Linked DNA regions of Homo sapiens: region 2 is linked to region 1. Evidence: fine-mapped QTL for protein levels in blood plasma. Region 1 holds a variant in brackets. A gene starts in the other region. All regions are shown on their forward strands.

What was found. PIP is the posterior inclusion probability: the model's chance that the variant is causal. The UK Biobank Pharma Proteomics Project read protein levels with antibody pairs (Olink). The fine-mapping took linkage between variants from a reference panel, not from the people measured, so its PIPs are less certain.
Region 2: ACAN starts here. The variant in region 1 is fine-mapped to the plasma level of the ACAN protein (UK Biobank, PIP 0.94).

The regions. Positions count from the first base shown.
Region 1 is chr19:35,908,534-35,920,244 of GRCh38, forward strand. No RefSeq gene overlaps it. Among named protein-coding and RNA genes, the nearest start is that of TYROBP, 6.1 kb to the left of the region's middle. RefSeq lists enhancers at 739-868, 1,019-1,068, 1,169-1,278. The variant G/A (reference allele first, on the strand shown) is at 796.
Region 2 is chr15:88,798,456-88,810,166 of GRCh38, forward strand. ACAN (aggrecan) reads left to right here and starts at 4,981. Exons shown (of 19, transcript NM_001369268.1): 1 at 4,981-5,354. LOC105370960 (a long non-coding RNA gene) reads right to left here and starts at 5,063. Exons shown (of 3, transcript XR_001751648.1): 1 at 4,995-5,063; 2 at 201-349.

The sequences.
Region 1 (11,711 bases):
TGAAACCAGCTCTGCCTCTTCCTGGCTGGTCAACCTTGAGTGCAATGGCACGGTCTCGGCTCACTGCAACCTCTGCCTCCCGGGTTCAAGTGATTCTCCTGCCTCAGCCTCCCAAGTAGCTGGGATTATAGGCGCCTGCCACCATGCCCGGCTAATTTTTTGTATTTTTTTTTCTTTTTTTTTTAGTAGAGACAGGGTTTCACCATGTTGGCCAGCTGGTCTCAAACTCCTGACCTCAGGTGATCCACCCACCTTGGCCTCCCGAAGTGCTAGGATTGCAAGTGTGAGCCACCGCACCCAGCTCCAACCTCAGTTTCTTCATCTGTAAAATTGGGAGTAAAATGGGACCTACTTTTTAGAGTTGTGGGGATTAAATGAATTAAAGTTCCTAGACCAGGGTCTGACCCTTGTCAGCTTTTTAAAAGCATCAGCTATGATGATGATTATTTAATCATCAGAAACTTGTGCTGTTTAAAGGATATTAAAAGAGCCAGCAGCATGTGGGCACTAATGACATGCAGGCACTCTGTCCCAAGCGTTAAATCATTCAGTCCCCGCAATGCCCTTCTAGGGCACATGCTCTTATCATCCCCATTGTTCAGAGAGGTAGAGACGCTTGCCTAAGGCTGCACAGCAAATCAAGGTGGAAATGGAACCCAAGACCCAAAATCAGGTTTTTGACTAGGGAAGAGTCAGGGGGAAAAACAAAGATGAAAGATGGGGAAGGAGAAAACAGCGGCAAAGCTGAGAAAGGTGAGAGTAAGGCAGTGGCACAGACACAGAGGCACGGCTGGC[G/A]GCTTGGGGAGAGGCAGGTGGCTGGCTCTCCTGCTGAATGAGGAAGTGGCTGGGAGCAAGGCCCAAGGGAGGCCACCCCAAGGAGACGGGGACTTCTAGCCCCCAGCTGGAGCCTGGGGCTGGGGAAGGAGGAACCTGAGGTTAGGGTGCTGGAGGATGAGACAGCTGCAGGAAGCCCCCCTCCCCCATCCACACGTCACACCCACCGCTCCTTGGGCCTGGGCTTAGGAGAAAAAAGGGGAAACTGGATTCTGGTCACAGGGCAGATGCCCAGTGGCCTGTGGGGGAAGGGAGGAGAGGAGATTTGGAGCCTGGAGGAGGGTCAGGTCCCAGCTCAGCCCACGGTCACCACTGTTCAGGCCTGGCTGAGTCCCCTCCCTTAAAAACCCAAGCCTCTCCCATTGTGTCTAGAGCGAGCATGGAGGGAACAGACCCTGTAGGTCCTCCCGGGCACACCAGGCCACCCAATGTGTTGGAGCAGAGTGGGCGAGGGGGCAGTCAGAGACCAGAGCAGGGCTCTGAGCCAGGAGGGCCCTGACCTGACTCAGGGGTTCACAGGTTCCCTCCGGCCGCAGGTGGGGAGCAGACTGTGGAGGCAGGGACTGGAGCAGGGAGGCCAGGCTGCTGGGATATTTGTGAGGATATTGTGAGGTCTATTAGAATAATGCCTGGTTGAGTTCAAGACCAGCCCGGCCAGCATGGTGAAACCCCATCTCTACTAAAAATTAGGCTGGGCACGGTGGCTTATGCCTGTAATCCCAGCACTTTGGGAGGCTGAGGCGGGCGGATCACGAGGTCAGGAGATCGAGACCATCCTGGCCAACATGGTGAAACCCGGTCTCTACTAAAAATACAAAAAATTACCTGGGCATGGTGGTGGGCACCTGTAGTCCCAGCTACTCAGAAGGCTGAGGCAAGACAATACCTTGAACCTGGAAGGTGGAGGTTACAGTGAGCTGAGATCGCGCCACTGCACTCCAGCCTGGGCGACACAGCAAGACTCTGTCTCAAAATAATGATAATAATAATAAAGGGCCAAGCGCGGTGGATCACGCCTGTAATCCAACACTTTGGAAGACCGAGGTGGGCGGATCCCCTGAGGTCGGCAGTTCGAGACCAGCCTGACCAATATGGAGAAACTCGGTCTTTACTAAAAAATACAAAATTAGCCTGGCGTGGTGGCGCGTGCCTGTAATTCCAGCTACTCAGGAGCCTGAGGCAGGAGAATCGCTTGAACCCAGGAGGCAGAGGTTGCAGTGAGCAGAGATTGCGCCATTGCACTCCAGCCTGGGCAACAAAAGCGAAACTCAGTCTCAAAATAATAATAATAATAATAATAATAATAATAATAATAATAATAATAATAAACTTTCACTCCTGCTCTAAAACTTACCTTGGTTTCTCACTCTGCCTTATGTCCCTTGGTCAAATTCTTTTTTGAGGAGGCAAGGATTGAGGTTGCTGCAGACCCCTATGGATTCACTGCTGCGAACATACTTCGGTACCGTGTGACTTGGATATGTTCCATGCTAAAAATTAGTATGTCCAGTCTCGAGTTCTCAGCTTAGCTTGATAAAAATCCTCCCTCAGCCAGGTGCAGTGGCTCACACCTGTAATCCCAGGCGTGATTTTGGATTTTGGGACTTTAGGAGGCCAAGGAGGGTGGATCACCTGAGGTCAGGAGTTTGAGACCAGCCTGGCCAACATGGTGAAACCCTGTCTCTACTAAAAATACAAAAACTAGCCAGACATGGTGGCAGGCGCCTGTAATACCAGCTACTTGGGAGGCTGAGGCAGGAGAATCGCTTGAACCTGGGAGGCAGAGGTTGCAGTGAGCCAAGATCATGCCATTGCACTCCAGCCTGGATGACAAGAGTGAGACTTTGACTCAGAAAAAAAAAAAAAATCCTCCCTCAGTCCTTCAGCATCAGCCTCCTAGTCTCATCCTCCCCACTTCAGCCAGGCCTGGGCTGTCCCCAGAAGATATTCCCCAAGCACCATCCAGTCATACGGATGTGGCCATAGGGGCTGGAATCAGGGTCCTAGAGCGCCACCTTTAGTTGCTGAGATGTGGGAAAGTCCAAGGGGTCCCCAAAGAATGGACTCGGGTGGTAGCAGACATCTGTGGGCTATGTGGGCTCTTTACTAACCAGAAGTGGAATGTTTCAACATTTTAGCAACCAATACAACTGTGCTGATGCAGACCACAGGTGGCAGGTCTGGGCTGGCCTCTGGGCTAGAGGACGGATAAAACACTCTCTTTGGCCAGGCATAGTGGCTCACACCTGTAATCCCACCACTTTGGGAGACTGAGGCGGGTGGATCACTTGAGGTCAGGAGTTTGAGACCATCCTGGCCAACATGGTGAAACCCCGTCCCTGCTAAAAAATACAAAAATTAGCCAGGCGTGGTGGTACACATCTGTAATCCCAGCTACTCAGGAGGCTAAGGCAGGAGAATCGCTTGAACCTGGGAGGCAGAGGTTGCAGTGAGCCGAGATCGCACCACTGCACTCAAGCCTGGGCAACAGAGCAAGACTCCGTCTCAAAATAAACAAAACAAAACAAAACAAAAAAACCCTCCCTCTTTGGATGAAGGAAGAAGCTGAGATTCAGGGCACCCAGCAACAAGGCGCTGCCCCAAGACACTGCCAGACTCCTGGAAGCTGAGCTGAGGGCCTCCACACAAGATCAAGAGGTGAGTGTCTCACCCTCTCTGGGCAGCAGGCCAAGAGTTGGGGAAGCCAACGCTGACTTTCCCAGAAACCAGGTAGTGTGTTGGCCTGTGACCAGCTCACTTCTGTGGAAGCTACAGTCCCTCCCCACTCTCCCAGCTTCCACACTGGCCCCTCCACAGCCTGTCCTCCTCAAAGCAGCTGGAAGCTTTGTAAAACATCAGATGAATAGAGGCCAAGGCAGAAGGATCGCTTGAGGCCAGGAGTTCAAAACCAGCCTGGGCAACATAACGAGACCCTGTCTCTAATTCTTTTTTTTTTTTTTGAGATGGAGTTTTGCTCTTGTCGCCCAGGCTGGAGTGCAGTGGCGCGATCTCCGCTCACTGCAACCTCCACCTCCCGGGTTCAAGCAATTCTCCTGCCTCAGCCTGCCGAGTAGCTGGGATTACAGGCATACGCCACCATGCTTGGCTAATTTTGTATTTTTAGTAGAGATGGGGTTTCTCCATGTTGGTCAGGCTGGTCTCGAACTCGCAACCTCAGGTGATCCACCTGCCTCCGCCTCGCAAAGTGCTGGGATTACAGGCGTGAGCCACCGTGCCCAGCTCTAATTATATTTTTAAAAATAGGCTGGGCATGGTGGCTCACGCCTGTCATGCCAACACTTTGGGACACCAAGGCAGGCATATTACTTGACCTCAGGATTTCAAGACCAGCCTGGGAGCCAGGCGTGATGGCTCAAGCTTGTAAATCCCAGCACTTTGGGAAGCTGAGGCAGGTGAATTGCTTGAGCCCAGAAGTTTGAGACCAGCCTGAGCAACAGGGCAAAATCCCAGCTCTACAAAAAATACAAAAATTAGCCCAGCATGGTGGCACCTACCTGTAGTCCTAGCTACTAGGGAGGCTGAGGTGGGAGGATCACCTGAGCCTGGGGAGGCAGAAGCTACAGTGAGCTTTGATTGTGCCACAGCAGTCCAGCCTGGGCCACAGAGTGAGACCCTGTCTCAAAAAAGAAAAAAATTAATTAATTTAATTTAAAAATCAGACAAATAGCCTAATTTTTAAGTGACCAAAACATTTGAACAGACACTTCACTAAAGATGAGACGTGAAGGCCGGGCGTGGTGGCTCACTCCTGTAATCCCAGCACTTTAGGAGGCCAAGGTGGGCGGATCACCTGAGGTAAGGAGTTCGAGACCAGCCCAGCAAATATGGTGAAACCACATCTCTGTTAAAAACACAAAAATTATCTGGGCGTGGTGGCAGTTTCCTATAATTCCATCTACTCAGGAGGCTGAAGCAGGAGAATCCCTTGAACCCAGGAGACAGAGGTTTCAGTAAGCCGAGATCGCACCGCTGCACTCCAGCCTGGGCAACAGAGCAAGACTCCATCAAAAAAAAAAAAAAAAAGCCAGCGTGGTGGCTCACGCCTGTAATCCCAACACTTTGGAAGGCCAAGGCGGGCAGATCACCTGAGGTCAGGAGTTCAAGACCAGCCTGGCCAATATGGTGAAACCCCATCTCTACTAAAAATACAAAAATTAGCCAGGCACGGTGGCAGGCATCTGTAATCCCAGCTGCTTGGGAGGCTGAGGCAGGAGAATCACCTGAACCTTGGAGGCAAAGGTTGTAGTGAGCTGAGATCAAGCCATTGCACTCCAGCCTGGACGACAAAAGTGAGACTCCATCTCAAAAAAAAAAAAAGAAGAAGAAGAAGAAGAGACATGAATGGCCAGGAAGCCTGTGAAAAAGTGCTCAGCACTATTAGTCATTAGGGAAATATAAACGAAACCTCAGTGAAATGTCACTGCACGCCCACTTAAATGACTAAAATTAAAAAGACTGACCCTATCGAGTGTCAGCAGAAATGTGGAGCAGTTGGAAATCTCAGACACTGCCGGTGGAAATGAAAAATAGAGCAACCGCTTTGGAAAATAGTCGGTTGTTTCCTTTAAACATTCTGCAGTAGCTCACACCTGTCATCTCAGTGCCTTAGGGGACTAAGGTGAGAGGATCTCTTGAGGCCAGAAGTTCAAGATCAGCCTGAGAAACATAGCAAGATACCATATTTACAAAAATTGTTCTTTTTTTTGAGACAGAGTCTCATTCTGTTACCCAGGCTGGAGTGCAGTGGCACGATCTCAGCTCACTGCAACCTCCGCCTCCTGGGTTCAAGCAATTTTCATGCCTCAGCCTCCTGAGTAGCTGGGATTACAGGCACCCACCACCACGCCCGGATAGTTTTTTGTATTTTTAGTACAGGTGGGCTTTCACCATGTTGGTCAGGTTGTTCTCAAAGTCCTGACCTCTGGTGATCCACCCTCCTCAGCCCCCCAAAGTGCTGGAATTAGAGGCGTGAGCAACTGTGCCTGGCCTAATTTTTCTATTTTTCATACAGATGGGCTTTCACCATGTTGGTCAGGCTGATCTCGAACTCCTGACCTCAACTGATCCGCCTGCCTCAGCCTCACAAAGTGCTGAGATTACAGGCGTGAGCCACTCTGCCTGGCCCAAATTTTTTTTTTTTTTTTTTTTTTTTTTTTGAGATGGAGTCTCTCTCTGCCGCCCAGGCTGGAGTGCAGTGGCTCGATCTCGGCTCATTGCAGCCTCCCCGTCCCAGATTCAAGCGATTCTCCTGCCTCAGCCTCCCAAGTAGCTGGGATTACAGGCATGAGCCACCACACCTGGCTAATTTTTGTATTTTTTTAGTAGGGACAGGGTTTCGCCATGTTGGCCAGGCTGTTCTCACACTCCTGGCCTCAAGCGATCCTCCCACCTCAGCCTCCTAAAGTTCTGAGATTACAGGCATCAGCCACCATGCCTGGCCCCCAAAATTGTTTTAAATTAGCTAGGCGTGGTGGAGCACACTTGTGGTCCCAGCTACTCAGGAGTCTGAAGCAGGAAGGTTGCCTGAACCCAGGGATTGGAGGTTGCAGTGAGCTATCGTGGCACTACTGCACTCCAGCCTGGGTGACAGAAGGAGACCCTGTTTCAAGAGAAAGAAAAAAGGAAGGAAGAAGGAAGGGAGGGAGAGAGAGAGAAAGAAAGAAGGAAAGAAAAGAAAGAAGAAAGAAAGAGAGACAAAAAGAAAGAAAAGAAAAGAAAAAAAAGAGGCTGGGGGCGGTGGCTCACGCCTGTAATCCCAGCACTTTGGGAGGCTGAGGTGGGCAGATCACAAGGTCAGGAGATCCAGACTATCCTGGCTAACACGGTGAAACCCTGTCTCTACTAAAAATACAAAAATATTAGCCAGGCATGGTGGTGGGTGCCTGTAGTCCCAGCTACTCGGGAGGCTGAGGCAGGAGAATGGCGTGAACCCAGGAGGCGGAGCTTGCAGTGAGCCGAGATTGCGCCACTGCACTCCAGCCTAGGCAACAGAGTGAGACTCCATCTCAAAAAAAAAAAAAAAAAAAGAAGGGGATGTGTGATGTGTTCAATGACATTAGGGAACCCACTGAATCTCTAGGAGGTCCAAGAAATCAGTCCCTGAGCTACACAGATCAGATCCTACTCCTGCCTTGGGGAGCAAACACCTCAGCTCCACTGCTAAAGTGATCTGGGACCTTCTGTGAAGGCTTCTGTCATTTGCATCAGACACTGGGGGAAGTTTGGCAATTTCTAAGAAATTTAAACATAAACACACCATACAACCCAACACTCCCACTCCTAGGTATTTACCAAAGAGAAGTGAAAACGTGAGTTTATACAAAAACCAGTACCATATATTAATAGTGGCTTTGTTCATAATTGCCCCAAACTGGAAACAACCGAATGGTTCTTCACTGGATGAATGGATAAACAAGTTGTTTATCCATTTTTTTGAGATCCACACGGTGGGATACTACTCAGCAATAAAAAGGAATGAACTATTTTTACTTATCTTTTTATTGGAGAAAGGGTCTTGCTCTGTTACGCAGGCTGGAGTGCAGTGGTGCAATCATGGCTCACTACAGCCTCAACTTATTGGGCTCAAGCGATCCTCCCACTTTAGCCTCCCAAGTAGCTGGGACTATAGGTGCGCATCACCATGCCCAGCTAATTTTTATATTTTTCATAGAGATGATGTTTTGCCATGTTGCCTGGGCTGGTCTTGAACTCCTGGCCTCAAGCGATCCTCCCACCTCATTCTCCCAAAGCCCTGGAATTACAGGTATGAGTCACTGCACCTGGCCTCACCAATATTTTTTTCTCCCCTTCTTCTTCTATAGGTGTGAGCCACCACGTCTGTTTTTTTTTTTTGTTTTTTTTTTTTTTTTGAGATGAAGTTTTGCTCTTGTTGCCCAGGCTGGAGTGCAATGGTGCAACCTTGGCTCACTGCAACTTCTGCCTCCTGGGTTCAAGCGATTCTCCTGCTTCAGCCTCCTGAGTAGCTGGGATTACAGGCATGCACCACCATGCCCAGCTAATTTTTGTATTTTTAGTAGAGACGGGGTTTCATCATATTGGTCAGGCTGGTCTCTAATTCCTGACCTCAGGTGATTTGCCAGCCTCGGCCTCCCAAAGTGTTGGGATTACAGGCGTGAGCCACCACTCCCGACATCCTAATTTTTATTTTTATTTTTTTAGAGATGTGATCTCACTCTGTCACTGAGGCTGTAGTGTACTAGCAGGAACATAGCTCACTGCAGCCTCAACCTCCCAGGCTCAAATAATTTTCCCACCTCAGCTCTGCAAGTAGCAGGGACTACTGGCAGGCACCGCCATGCCAGCTAATTTTTAAATTTTTTTGTAGAGATAGTGTTTCACCACCTTGCCCAGGCTGGTCTCAAACTCCTGAGCTCAGGCAATCCACCTGCCTTGGCCTCCTAAGGTGCTGGGATTACAGGTGTGAACCCCCTTGCCCAGCCACCCCTTCCTCTACTGAAACAGAATTTGTAGTTGGGCATGAGATTCCCTAGCCAAGAAGATGTCTCTCATCCTCTTTGGAGCCTGTTGGGGCCATGTATCTGTTTTCTGGCAAACGGAACTTGGGAAGAAATGATGCGGGCAACTTCCAGATTGTGTCCCTAAAGTCAGAGTATGCCCTCTCCTTTTCTGCTCTTCCTATTGGCTGGAATGTGGCCCTTATTCTGGCTGTGGGCACCCACTTTAACCACAACAGCTAACATTTTGAAGGCTTTTTAAGTAGAATCCAAGTAATGCTTGATGGTTTCATCAATTGTGGTTCATCCATAACATAAATAGAGTCATGGCCAGGCATGGTGGCTCATGCCTATAATCCCAGCACTTTGGGGGGCTGAATCAGGAACCTCAATTGTGGCCAGGAGATCAAGACCAGTCCGGGCAACATAGCGAGACCTTGTCTACGAAAACAAACAAACAAACAAACAAACAAACACATCAGCCGAGTGTGGTGGTACATGCCTGTAGTTTCAGCTACTTGGGAGGCTGAGATAGGAGGATCACCTGAGCCCAGGAGGTTGAGGCTATGGTGAGTCATGATTTGATTGGGCCACTGCACTCCAGCCTGGGCAACAAGGACAGAGCAAGACTCTGTCTCAAGGGGAAAAAAAAAAAAATTAAGAACTTGCCACAGTGGCTCATCCCTGTAATCCCAGCACTTTGTGGGGCCAAGGCAGGAGGATTGCTTGAGGTCAGGAGGTGTAGACCGGCCTGAGCAACATAGAGAGACACTCTCTCTACAAAAAAAATTAAAAATTAGCCGAGCGTGGTGGCACACACCTGTAGTCTGAGCTACTTGGGGGGCTGAGGTGGGAAGATCACTTGAGCCCTGGAGGTCGAGGCTACAGTGAGCCGAGATCACGCCACTGCACTCCAGCCTGGGTGACAGAGCGAGACTCTGTCTCCCAAAAAAAAGAATTAATGGCCGGGCGCGGTGGCTCAAGCCTGTAATCCCAGCACTTTGGGAGGCCGAGGTGGGCAGATCACAAGGTCAGGAGATCAAGACCATCCTGGCTAACACGGTGAAACCCTGTCTCTACTAAAAATACACAAAAAAATTAGCCAGGCGTGGTGGCGGGCGCCTGTAGTCCCAGCTACTCGGGAGGCTGAGGCAGGAGAATGGCGTGAACCCAGGAGGCGGAGCTTGCAGTGAGCGGAGATATAGCGCCACTGCACTCCAGCCTGGGCGACAGAGTGAGACTCCGTCTCAAAAAAAAAAAAAAAAAAAAAAGAATTAACATTCACCAAAAGATATCTTAGAATGATAATGTGGCTATATATTTAGATCTATATTTTAAAAGGTCATTATTACTTAGCGATATGTACTTCCTACAAATTTGGGAGGTGAAATAATAAGACGTCTGGAAAGTGTTAAAAGCAATCCAATAAAGAAGAAGTAGGTTCAGGTAGAGAGGGAATAAGATTAGCACGAATTGACAATTATTAAAGCTGGCAATAAGTCTATGGGAATTCATTATACGATTCTCTCTACTTTTGTGTATGTTTGAGATTTTTTATTAAAAAAAAGATAACCATTAGAAAATGGTTACAGAGTAGGAGAAGAAATTTGTAACACATAATGCAATGAATCTGAACATATCCTGCACACATAAATAACTCCTTAAAAACAAACAGCAAACCCCAGAAGAAAAATTGGCAAACTCAAGTAGACACTTAATTAATTAATTTAATTTATTTTATTTTATTTTTTGGAGACAGTCTCACTCTGTCACCCAAGCCGGAATGAAGTGGTGCAATCTTGGCTCATTGCAACCTCCACCTCCCAGGTTCAAGCGATTCTGCTGCCTCAGTGTCCCGAATAGCTAGAATTACAGGCACATGCCACCACACCCGGTTAATCTTTGTATTTTTAGTAGAGACGGGGTTTCGCCATGTTGACCAGGTTGTTCTCAAACTCCTGAGCTCAGGCAATTGGCCCACCTTGGCCTCCCAAAGTGCTTGGATTACAGGCATGAGCCACTGCATCTGGCCAATTGATTTATTTATTTGAAACAGGGTCTCACTCTGTTACCCAGGCTGGAGTAGAGTGGCAGAATCCTAGCTCACTGCAGCCTCAACCTCCCTGGCCTAAGCCATCCTCCCACCTCAGCCTCCCAAGTAACTAAGACCATAAGTATGGGCTACTATGCCTGGCTAATTTTTAAATTTTTTTAGAAACAGGGTCTTGCCCAGGCTGGTCTCAAACTCCTGGGCTCAAGGCGTCCTCTGGCCTTGGCCTCCCAAATTTCGGGGATTGCAGGCATGAGCCACTTCAAGCAAGCACTTCAGAAAAGAGGAACTCTAAATGGCAATAAAGGTGTGAAAAGGTGCTCATCCTCAGAAGGAGAACAAACATTAAAACAATGTAAGGCCTGGTGCAGTGGCTCACGCCTGCAATACCAGCACTTTGGCAGGCGGAGGTGGAAGGATCACCTGAGGTCAGTAGTTCAAGACCAGCCTGGCCAACATGGCAAAACCCCGTCTCTACTAAAAATACAAACATAGCCGGCATGGTGGCACATGCCTGTAATCCCAGTTACGAGGCCGAGGTAGGAGAATTGCCTGAACCCGGTAGGCAAAGGTTGCAGTGAGCCAAGATTGCAACACTGCAGTCCAGAGTGGGCGACAAGAGTCAGACTCCATCTCTAAAAACAAACAAGACTAGTAGCGCAAAACCGCTCCACACCTTTCCCTCTACCCCTAGAAATGTCGAAATTTTCAAAATCCGACACTACCAGATGTGGTGAAATGTGGAGCCACAGAAAATCTCATACACCTCTGAAGGAGGCAGAGGGGTTGAACCACTTTGAAAAACAGTTTGGCACTTTACTTCCCAGAGACCCAACTTCCGCCCCTATCTGTATCTGAGAGAGATGGGTGCAATAGATGCCAGGAGCCTTGTGTAAGGATAGTCACCCTATTTGTAAGGCCACCCTATTTGTAAGGCTTTTCAAAAGAAACAACCCAAATGCCCATCGCAGGAGAAAGGATACATACCTTGGGGCATATCACACAATGGAATACCGTGTAACCATGGGAATACATACCCTAGATCCATTTGCCACAACATGGACTTATCTCTCAAAGATAATGTTGAGTGGAAGAAGAAAGAAGCCGCGGGCACGGTGGTTCACGCCTGTAATCCCACCACTTTGGGAGGCCGAGGCGGGTGGATCACGAGGTCAGGAGATCGAGACCATCCTGGCTAACACGGTGAAACCCCGTCTCCACTAAAAATACAAAAAATTAGCTGGGCGTGGTGGCGGGCACCTGTAGTCCCAGCTACCCGGGAGGCTGAGGCAGGATAATGGCGTGAACCCGGGAGGCGGAGCTTGCAGTGA
Region 2 (11,711 bases), not on the chromosome of region 1:
AGGAGAGAATGTACTTACTCAGGCACACCAAATTGTGGGGGCTAGGGGGAAGGAAGAAAATTAACCATCCTTGCACTTTGAGCCAGATCAGTTACTAGGGGCTGACATTCCATATCTTATTTTAATTCTCACAACAATTCCATAAGATAGCTCCATTTTACAGATGTGAAACCAAAATCCAGAGAGGTTAAGAAACTCACCCAAGGTTCCCATGCCAGACCTGGGATTCACATCCAGTGCTCCCGATTACACAGGGAATCTCCTTGCTCCACAGCTCTCTTTGTTGCTTGAGATACACAGGAATCCCTTTCACGGGGGCCCGCATGGAAACAGTCTTCATTTTAATTGCCTGCAAGATTAAATATCAAGCAACAGTGAGATGTAGTTCTGAAACTCAACGATGTTTGGCCATACCGGTAGGAGCAGAATATCCAAATGGTTAGAGAAAAGAGTTGTCCTGGCTCCCCTCTAATCAGTCCACACCTGGGCTTGTGCATCTAATGCCGGGCATTGCATTTTTGAGGGGCATCCACAAACAAGGTTCGCAGAGAGTGAGGAATCCAGAAGCAAACTCCAGAAGAACACTCCCTTGGGAAACAGTCAAAGACCCTGTGAGGAGAGACATGAAGGGTGATGTGAGAACCCTCCTGCACTAACTGGAGGCTGCCCCTGTTGAAATGGGGGCAGACTGTGTTGCTCTAGAGAGCAGAATTGGGCCACTCACTTGTAAAAGAGTTTGGAATGAATGCTTCAGAGGAATTCTGCAAGCACCTTATATTGGGACTTAGCAAGGTACCTTCATGGTGTCCCCATGTATGGGACAGAAATAAGCACTCCATGGTAATACAGTCAGATGGATGGGGGGACTGGCCATGCTCTATGAGTTAGTTTAATGGAGTGTAGAAGCCAGCCTCCAAGATGCCCCCAGTGATCCCCATCCCCTGGTATTCACATCCTGTATGACCCTCCCACACTAGTTCAGGGCTGGCCCTGTGTGGGACTTCCAAAGCTATGACACAGAAGCACTGCACTCCCTGTGTCACTCACTGTGGTGGAAGCCAGCTGCCATGTCATGAGGACACTCAAGCAGCTCCATCGGGAGGCCCTATGGAGATGAAATGAGGTCACTGGCCAGCAGCCAGCACCAATTCACCAATCACGTGAGCGACCCACCTTGGACATGGATCCTCAAGCCCCAGTCAAGCTTTCAGCTAACTGCAGCTGTAACTGACATCTGACTACAACTTCAAGAGCTAGTCCAGGCCAGAACTGCCTGGCGAAGTTTCTCCCAAATTCCCGATCCATAGAAACCATGAGAGATATTAAATAACTATTGTTTTAAGACACTCAGTTTTGAGGTGATTTGTTACACAGCCATTATAACTGGAATATCGGATTATGTCGTTCATTCCAGGGGGGCTGTCTCTAGTGCTCTGCTCTAGAACTCAGCCCTAATCTCCGTCCCAGGCAATATTTTTATGAGCAGCCTGAATGAAAACATAGAAGTGGCACACTAGTTAGCTTTGTAGAATGTCTGCTGCTAAGAGGAATGGCAAACACACAGAATAATAGAGTCAGAATCCAAGATGATCTGAAGTAGTAAACTGAATTAGTTAGTGTAATGTTTAAAAGAAGCAAAAATGAAGCCCCACACTTGGATTGGAAAAACCCATTGTACCAGGATAAGCCAAAGGAGATGCTAGGTGGCAGAAGCACTGTGAAAAGGAAGTCTGAGCTGGCTGCAGGCTCCAAATGAGTCATGATGAGGCTGTCATAAAAGCACATAAATGTTGGCTGCATTACCAGAAGCACAGGACCCAGGTTATTGAGGTGAGCTCTCCTCTGGACCCAATCCAAAAGGGAGAAGGGAGAGACTTGAGATCACTGATTCCAAACAGAAAGGTTTATCACGTGGCAGGAGGTCCTGGGACAGGTTAGGGTTGGGGGGATGGAAATGGGCCTGTCTTGTTCACTGCTGAATCCACAGTATTGGGCATGAGCTTCTGTGAAAGCTGAAAGCTGCCTAAATACAAGAACCACGTGAAAAAAATGGATGTGGCCTCAGAAGGGAGTCAAACTCATGGCCACATCCAAGCAGAGTCTGATGTCCTACTTGAGGGAAACATCATGGACAGGACTGACATACTCTATGGAGGGGTGTCCTTAAAGTTCTCCAAGAGCTCTTCCCAGCTCTGAGATTCTCTTATTCTGTGATTTGTGATTGAATGAGTAGAACCTGCTGAATGATGTCAGCACAGTGCTTCTCAAACTTCAGCAGGCATATACAACACGGGAGGGATCTTGTTAAAATGCAGATTGTGAGTCAGTAGGTCTGGGGAACCTGGCATTCTGCATTTTGAATAAGCTTCCAGGTGACACTGCCAGTCTATAGAACATACTCTGAGCAGCAAGAGGTTAGAAATTGCCAGTTTACAGCAGACTGCATCGGGCAGCCTGGAAAAGGCATTAGGCAACTGTAAAGTATTCTAGCAGAAGAGGAGATGACCAGCTTCAGAAATATTACACTGGAACAGAGCTCCTGAGTTGGACAGGAAGAGCCTGTGTATGCCACCAAGGGCCTTCTGACACGCATGTCCTTTGACTCTCTGAATACTGTCTTTAAAGTGTCCAAATGCGTTGCCATTATCCTGGGTTTTTTGTATCCTTTAGGGCTAGGGAGTGTGAATTCATACCAGCCTGTACTCCAATCCCATTCACTACCTTGATGGCCTCTGAGTCTTGGTTTCTTAGTGTGTAAATGGGAATGGCATCCATCTGAGAGGCTGCTGTACCAAGCAGCATCTGACACATAATAGGTGCCCAATATATGTTTCTTAGACTCATTACAAAACCAGATGATCAATAAACATTTGTTCCCTTCAATACAAAGATAAATCGCCTAATTAATATTTGCCCTTGACTTGTTCTTCATTAACCCCACCTGCCCTAGGATGAATGTTGACATGAACCCATTTTACAAATGAGAGCAATTTGTTCTCCCACAAGGCATCAGGTAAACACAGGCATGAGAATCCATGACCTCGTTGGAATTTCAGGGACTGTTTTTTTCCCAGAGGGTCATTTCTCCCTGTTCCAGGCATTGAGGCCAGTAACTATTAAGATTTCATCTCTTTTTTTTTTTTTGAGACGGAGTCTTGCTCTGTCGCCCAGCCTGGAGTGCAGTGGCGCCGTCTCAGCTCACTGCAAGCTCCGCCTCCCGGGTTCACGCCATTCTCCTGCCTCAGCCTCCTGAGTAGCTGGGACTACAGGCGCCCGCCGCCACGCCCGGCTAATTTTTTTGTATTTTTAGTAGAGATGGGGTTTCACCGTGTTAGCCAGGATGGTCTCCATCTCCTGACCTCGTGATCCGCCCGCCTCGGCCTCCCAAAGTGCTGGGATTACAGGCGTGAGCCACTGCGCCCGGCCTCATCTCATTTCTTTATCTGTGAGAGAAGCCACTATCACCCCCTAAGGGGCTTCGGTCACCAGCATTTTGTCTGTGTCCTAAATGCTTCAAGACTTACAGACCTGACTCAATACGCTCAGGTAGAAAAAGGGTGAAATCAAGAATGGCCAACCACTGGAACACTTTAGCCATTGCTCTGAGAGGTGGGTGGATAGAGTGGGCACTATGCTCCCTCCGACGGGGCTTCACTGCCCTGGACAGGGGAGAGACAGGCGGCTCACAGAGCATGTGCTGGGCCAGGGCCAGTCCCGCCCCCAGGCAGAGATGGCCAGTAAAATAACCACATAATTCCAGTGGAGTCGCCCTGGGGAAACCGAGGCACTTCAGTTCCTTTTCATCAAGGAACTGATTAAAGTGTGGTCTATTATCTCTGTAGTGGGGAGTCCCGAAAGATTCCACTTCTTCCTCTTCTTGCCCAATGAGAGGGTCAGGAAGCTTCCACCACCATCCTGACTGTGGCCACCACATCCTGGTGTGAAGCACCACCAGCTTCCTCCACAAGAACTCTGAAGGTCACCAGCCAGCTTGAGTCCTCCGAAGGTGCTGTGGCTCAACCAGCAGCCTGTGTAGCAGAGAGCACAAGACCTGGGACTCGAACTCAGTCCCACCTTCAAGAGGGATCTCCACCACTTTCTGAGCCTCAGTTTTCACATCTTTGGTTAGGGGCAGGTGGGAAGTTGCCATATTTACCTTGTTGGGCTCTTTGGAAAAATTAAATGAAATGTTAATGTATGTTACACAACGGGCTCATAGGAGGGATTCAAAAGCTGCTAGTTCTTTTTCTCCTTTTCCTGAAAACGGTATTAAAGAGTACTGTAGAGACACTGGAGAATTCCTGCTTCATATGAGATGTCCTTGGTCTCTCCCGGGGAATTTGAAGACCCAGAGACTCGCAGCTCCCCGTGAGCCTCCCCGCTGACGCCTTACCTCCCCCTCTCCACCATCCCCTGCCATCCCGGTGTACGCCACCCCCAAAAAAACTTTCAGCCAGCTCCTCGGTGAGGGTCGTTCCAAATCGTGGCCGACAGTAGCGGGCTGCACCCTCCTTAGATCGCGTCGTGGCCAGCCTCAGCTGCAGAACCCCGCCGGGCGCCCGGGAGCCCTGTCCCGCCGCGGCGGCCTCAGAGTCCGGGCACTTGGGGATTCTCTGAGGGTGCAGCCCTCCTGGGCCCCTCCGACTGCGGAGCTGCCGACCGCAATGCAGATGCGGGCCCTCCAGCCCTTCTCGCGCCGCCTTCCTCCCGCCAGCCCCGGAGCTGCCGGGTCCGCGCCGCCCCGGGGAGCGCTCCTCTCCCGCCCTGAGCGCAGGCCGGCTTCCCCATCGGCGCGCCGGTCCGGAGCCAGGGTCCAGCGCGCTCCAGACGCCTCTGCCTTCCCCTCCCCCTGTCGGCCGCCCCTCGGTCCCTGGGGGTGGGGTTTCCCTTTGCGCTCGCCCCCTCCCGCCCCCACCCCTCACGGGCCCTCCCCTCCCCCGCCCGTCCCTATGTATGTGTCACAGCGCGCCATGCCCGCCCGCCCGCCCACCTACCTCCCCGCCGCTCCAGAGGGGGCTCGCAGAGCTGAGGACGCGCGCAGCGCTGCTCAAGGTCTCTCTCTCTCAGCACCCTCGCCGGCCGGCGTCTGACGCGGGTGCCAGGGTCTCCGGGCACCTTTCAGTGTCCATTCCCTCAGCCAGCCAGGACTCCGCAACCCAGCAGTTGCCGCTGCGGCCACAGCCCGAGGGGACCTGCGGACAGGACGCCGGCAGGAGGAGGGGTGCGCAGCGCCCGCGCAGAGCGTCTCCCTCGCTACGCAGCGAGACCCGGGCCTCCCGGCCCCAGGAGCCCCCAGCTGCCTCGCCAGGTGTGTGGGACTGAAGTTCTTGGAGAAGGGAGTCCAACTCTTCAAGGTAACTGTCTCCTTCCCTCCAGAGCGAGGCTCTCCCAGGGCGCCCGGCGAGCCAGGAACGGGACTGAGACTGCACGCCCCGGGGCTGGGGGCTGCACTGCCTTGGTCTCCGCCCTAGAGCTATGTGTGCCGGGGGCGCAGCACATCCACCGGCTGCGTCCGCGGTGGAGTTGAGCAAACTTTTTGGCTGTTGCAGACTCAGTGAATGGGGCAAAGGAACACGTGAGGAGGGGCACTTGTCTCCTAGTCCGCCAGGATGAAGGAACAAGGGAGCCTTTTCTCCAAACACCTAGGTGATTTTAAATCCTAGGGTCTGGAAAGACCCATGGTTGACAGAGTAGCAGCTTCAGAGTCAAGGGAATGTGGGTTCAAATCCCCGAGGTGCTACTTTTGAGCTGGAAGGTGTGCTTCACCTTCCTGAGCCTTGGCCTGCCGTCTGTCAGCTGAGAGGGAAAAGGCCTTCGCGGGGTCTGGAAGAATAAATGAAATCATATGGACACTATGTCAGGGACACAGCGGGTCCTAAGCCGAGGCTAGATAGTCCATCCTTGGCCACTTGGCTTACTCCAGGGACCAGAGTGCCTGAAGAGTCTGCCCAGGGGAGAGTGGCAGAACCTGGGACAGAGCTACTGAACTGCCAGCAGGGGAGAGGAGAGCAGTGCCCTGAACACACGGGTGTCCAACCAAGAAGGGGCATTTCTCAAGGAAGAAAGGGGAGGGGAGTTGAGGACACACGACCACGAGCGGTTTTTCCGTCTGTGGGTTCCTCTTCAAACGAAGCCAATGCTGGTGGAGCAGGAGCCCTTTCCAACCCTGGGGCTGGGTTGGAGGCTGTCAGTATGTCAACTGAACCACACTCTGGGCAGAGCAAGCTGCGGGGGTGGGGGCTTGTCTCTGGTTGTGAGACAGGATCCAACCCAAACTTTTCCATCATTATCCTCCTTTCAGTCATGAGCTGGGTTCTGACAGGATCCTACTAGGGTTTCACCATGAAGAAGCTGGAGTTCCAGCATGTTGACTGATGTGTAAATTCTGGTTCTGTGGGGCTGGCTGCCAGGAGGAAAATACAAAGCTGAATTGGGTTAGCACGGTGTTTTGGGGTCCTGGGTGCTGCAGTGGGTGGGTGTCTGACAGTTTAGAGGGGACTCTGGACCTTGAAAATTCACCCACCTCGTCTGAAGAGGAGGGCAAGTGGACCCAGAAAGGTGCAATGAATTTCTGAAGGTTGAACTGTGACTTAGGGTCAAGGGCAGAACTAGAATCCAGGTTTTCTGAGGCCATAGTCGGTCCCTCGTCCTGATTTAAGAGTCCAGAATTCTTGGGTTCTAATCCTTATCTCTCTTTCTTGTCCTGGGTTGCCATGGACAAGGAGCAATCAGGTTGCTCATGCACCCTGGGCAAGGTGGGTTTGGAGGCACTATGAAGATACGGTTTAGGAGTGTTGGCTTGTCAATCACAGGCTCCAGGGAGAAACTGCAGGAAATGGAAAGGCAATGGGGAAGAAAACCCTGAAGCTCGTTGGGGGAGGAAGCATTGAGCGGCAGTGGGGAGGAGAGGTTCTAACCTGAAAGAAAGATTGCAGAATAGTAGATCTCCCCAGTATAAAAAGTTTCAGAAGAAGGAATTGTCCAAAGGAAGAAGATATCTCTTGGAGAGATGCTGGAATTCCACAGGTTACCTTGAGCTGTGTTTAATTTAGATATTCTTACGTGTAGTTTCTAGTGCTGTGCCTGGTATTTTCATTCATTCTCCAATATCTGCTGAGCGCCACCTAGGTGCCAGGCTCTGTGCTCAATGCTGGCCCACAGCGGGTACTCAATAAACAGCAGATATGAGATGACCCAAGCAAAGGGCTTAGCGTAGTGCCTGGCACTGGGCAAGTACTCAGTAACTGTTTCATATTATTAATATTACTATTATCATTCTTAATTCTAGTAGTAAATGAATGTTTTTCTTTTTCTAGAATATTCACTGACAATCATACTTAAAAGGGAATATTTTGTTTAATGTTCGGAAGCCCTCCACACACCCAGGCACACCTCTTGCCCCTGTTCCCCATCTCTCTCACACCCACACGCCCAATCCCAGGCAGCCACTCACCCCTGCATGCCAAGGCAGAGCGTTCTCCTCCTCTTATGCCCCCTCCCCAATTAGAGAGGGAGCTCCAAGAGAGAGCTCACCTCCTGAGACAGTCGGCAAGAGCCAGGAGGGTGGACAGCCTGCATGCAAGGAAGACTGGGATTCAAATTCCAGCTCAGCCACTCGCTGGCTACATGGCTTTGATAAGGGTACTGAGCCTCCCAGAGGCTTCATTTCCTCTTCTCTAAAAAGGGGAGAAAATCCTCCGATAAGAGATTTTTGTGAAGATTAAAAGACATAAAGTGGGTGCCTTGTCCAGCTCTCAGCAAGCACCACAAACTTTAATTCCTCTCCTCTAACAGCTCCTAAGCCCCCTTGTGGGTCACAAACCCCAAGTTATGGATAGCAAAAATTTCAAATGTTTTCTCTTGATAAGAGACTGTGTGTCCTAACTTTTGGTGTGAATTTTTTTTTTTTTTTTAAGATGGGAGTCTTGCTCTGTTATCCAGGCTAGAGTGCAGTGGCCCAATGTTGGCTCACTGCAACCTCCGCCTCCCAGGTTCAAGTGATTCTTGTGCCTCAGCCTCCCAAGTAGCTGGGGTTACTTGTGTACCACCACGCCCGGCTAATTTTTGTATTTGTAGTACAGACGAGATTTCACCATGTTGGCCAGGCTGGTCTCGAACTTCTGACCTCAGGTGATCGCCTGCCTCAGCCTCCCAAAATGCTAGGATTCAGGCGTGAGCCACCATGCCCAGCCAGTGAATTTCTTTTTAATGATTCCTTCTAGAACTGGGTTCCTCCCAAGACCCTTCTTATTGGGCCCTTAGGAGGACCTCAGCTGAGCCAAAGGAAGCCCATGAGACCCTGCCTAGAGTCCCACTTTGAGTCTGTCTCTGCTGCTGCAGGGATGTCTAGCACCAGATTTGTCCAACTGCAGGTTGTGAGATCAATTTAGCGGGGTTCTTAATAAAATAGGAAATACCAGATAATCTCATAGTGCCTCCTATGTAGCAAAGGTAAGTACTGTTTCTGGAAACTTTTGTTTCTGTTATTTATTTTGAAGCCCTCTATAAGGGTATGTATGTTTATAATATAAATGTATATATGCAAATATATACAAATTTGATATTTGCATATATTTTTATTTAATTTTTTTTTTACTATATTGGTCCCAATGATGTTTCTGTCTCAGAAATTTCAGCATTGTGGCCCTAGGTGGCAGGTGCTGGGGCATCCTTGCTGCCACTGCACCAAGTGCTGGGGAGTCAAGGCAGCTGAGGTGGAAGCTGGAGTTGGGGAAAGGCAAGTTCAAGGAAGAGGACCCAGAGTCAGAGAGGAAGCAGGGCATGGAGGAAGGTCTGCTTATAAGTAGAGCAGGGGAGGGGACAGGCCAGCAGCTGCCCTGGGAAAGGGGATCAGGAGCACATCTTGGGAACAGGAGCCTTCCTCTCCTGCTGTCAACGGCCTGGCCTCGTGGCCATGCTTCGTGTCCTGATGGTAGCCGCACTGCCGCCCTGATAACTTAAAGGAAGCCCCTTCAATGGGATGAAGGGCCCGTTTCTGTGACAGCTACTTTGGGAGTGGCAGCTCCCCTTCCCCCAGATCCAACAGGACACAGCCATCCCTGCGAGGGAGTCTGGGCCCCTGGACGCAGTTGAAGAAGGGCCACTGGGAGGCCGGCAGAACAAGGGGAGGGCTGGAGAAGGAGCGGGAGTGCAGGCGAGAGGAGGACCAGAGAGGGGGAATTTGTAGAGAAAACGGTAAAACGGTTTCTTTTTTCAAAAGTTGAATCCAGGGCAAGAACGGAAACGGTGGAGTTTACTTTTAAAAACTCAGAGCCTCCTTATAAGTGGTGGAGTGTGTGTGTGTGTGTGTGTGTGTGTGTGTGTGTGTGTGCATGCTGGCAGGGCGGGCCCTGCGGGCTGGCCAGGCCTGTGAGAGGTGACTTCTCTCCCTCTCAATGGCCTTACAGTGTATCCTAAAGAAGCTTTTTGTTAAACTCATGAATAGGTGGATTTGGGGTGTGTGATGCTGGGCATCACGATTTGGATATTTGGTTACCTTTGAGGTTACATGTTTTTCCTCTTAAGATACACACTCAAAAAAGGAGCCACCTCTTCTGTGTAGGTCACTATTTTGGTGTATGTGGGGGCGGGGGTGCCTGTCTTTCTGTAATTGATTTGACTGGAGGGGTGAGGGTAAGAAGGAGAAACACAGGACATGGCAGATCTGCAATGCCTGACCTGGGAGACAGCCTCCCTCAGCTCCCTGGTCTCTGGCAGTCCCCAGATCACAGATGCCCAGGGCCTTCCAGGCCTGTGATGGTCCTCATTTAAGAGATCGCAAAAGGGACCTAGGCCCAAAGAGGGGAAGGATATGCCCCAGGCTGCTGCCCCAGAGCAGGTTGGTAAGAATCTGGACTGGGATCTAGACCTTCAGGTTCTCATCACAGAATATGTCGTGTTCCCAGAGATCATTCATTCATTCTTTCAGCAGCACTTGCTACATGCCAGGCACTGTGCTAGGCATGGATAACATAGCAGTGAATAAATCAACTCACTCTTCCTGCCCTCCACCTACTTACAGTCTAATGGGGAAGACGGACTGTAACCAACCTGAACCTGACCCCTCATTTCTATACAGCAGTGGCTGTCACCTGGGGCTATTTTGCCCTCCTTCCCCGGGGAACATTTGGCCATGTCTGGAGACATTTTTTGTTGTCACCACTGGAGACTGAGGTGCTTGCTGCTAGCGTCTCATGGATAGAGCCAGGGGTACTGTGAAACATCTTACAGTGTACAGCACAGCCCCCGCCCACATACATGCACAATAGAGAATTATCTGGCCCAAAATGTCAATAGTCCCAAGGCTGAGACACCCTGCTGCAGACCTTCATTTAGTTCATGGGCCAGGCCATGCCCAACTGGGCATGGCAACTGGAAAAGAGGGGATAGGACAAGAAGGAAAGTTAGGTAGGCAGTGCAGAGGGGACAATAAATGAAAAGGAAAAGAAAAGTCCGAGCCCCCATGGTAAATTAGAAAAAATGTGGGCTTTGGTGGCCCAGACTGAGGTTGAAATCCTAGCTGTATCCCCTTGGGTAAGTCAGTTATCCTCTCTGAGCCTCACTGCGTTTCTGTTTCCGTGAGATGGACTCATGGTACAGTTGTGAAGGTTTGAAAGCAAATAAAGGACCTGGCACAAATTAGACATACAATAAAATGGCAACTGTTATTAGTATATTTGAGGCTTTTAAAGTCCCCACTATGGAAAATTACAGCATCCACACGTGTGATCAGGAAGCCAAAGAAGGCTGCTCTTTGGGGCAGGGTTGCCATAGTATTCCCTCTGCTTGGGGGAGGGGCAGTGGGTGGTGTGAGCATCTCCCTCCAGTGTGTGTGGTGGGAGGAGCACTGCACTTGGAGTCACATGGACTGGGCACTGATGGCCATATGACCTAGGGGAAACTGCTTCACCTCTCAGCCTCAGGTTCTTTATTTATAACACGGAGATGCTAAGCCTGCCCTCATGGGCCAAGATCCAGTGAGGACCTCCGAAGGAGGCCTGTGGGGGTGCCTTGAAGCCGATGCAGGCACCTTTGGTGTCTGGTGTGCCCTGTCCCTAACCCAGGGCCAGGCACATACAACAGACTAGTTGAATGAACCATAGTACTATAAATTCCTTTCAGTTCTTGACAAAGAGAGCACCAAGAATACCCAGTTGGGCAATCCTTCACTTTGTCACTCCTCCATCCTTTGCAAGATGCAGGGACCTCTGGTTCCCAGAACGTGCTGCATCAGGTTGCAGCACCGGGCAGCTGCATCCTCCAGAGAGCACTGCAGATACAGCAGCTGCACCGTGACAGCCCCACAGGGGCATCCCCATGGGGAGTGGGAGGTAGAGGGGTGGGGGTTCTCCAGAGCTGAGGTGAGCCCAGCTACTGAAAAGAGGACCAAATGAGGATCAGGACCCTGGAGATTTATCTCAATGCAGGCATGTCATTGAATACCTCCACTTTCCTATCTGTAAAATGGAGTTGAAGTCATGATAAAGTAAGGCCTAACTAAAAGCCACTAGCCAAAGGGGTGGATTTGGGTAAACTGTCAAGCTTTCCTGAACTTCTATTTTACAGAGTCATGAAACACTGGAGCAGAAAGGGATTCATGGGTCACCACAGCGTCTTCTTCATTATGCAGAGGGGGAGGCTGAGTCCCAGAGAGCGGAGGACACTTGGATGGGGGTTCACAGGCTGCTCTTGCACCCAGGCTTCTGAGGCTC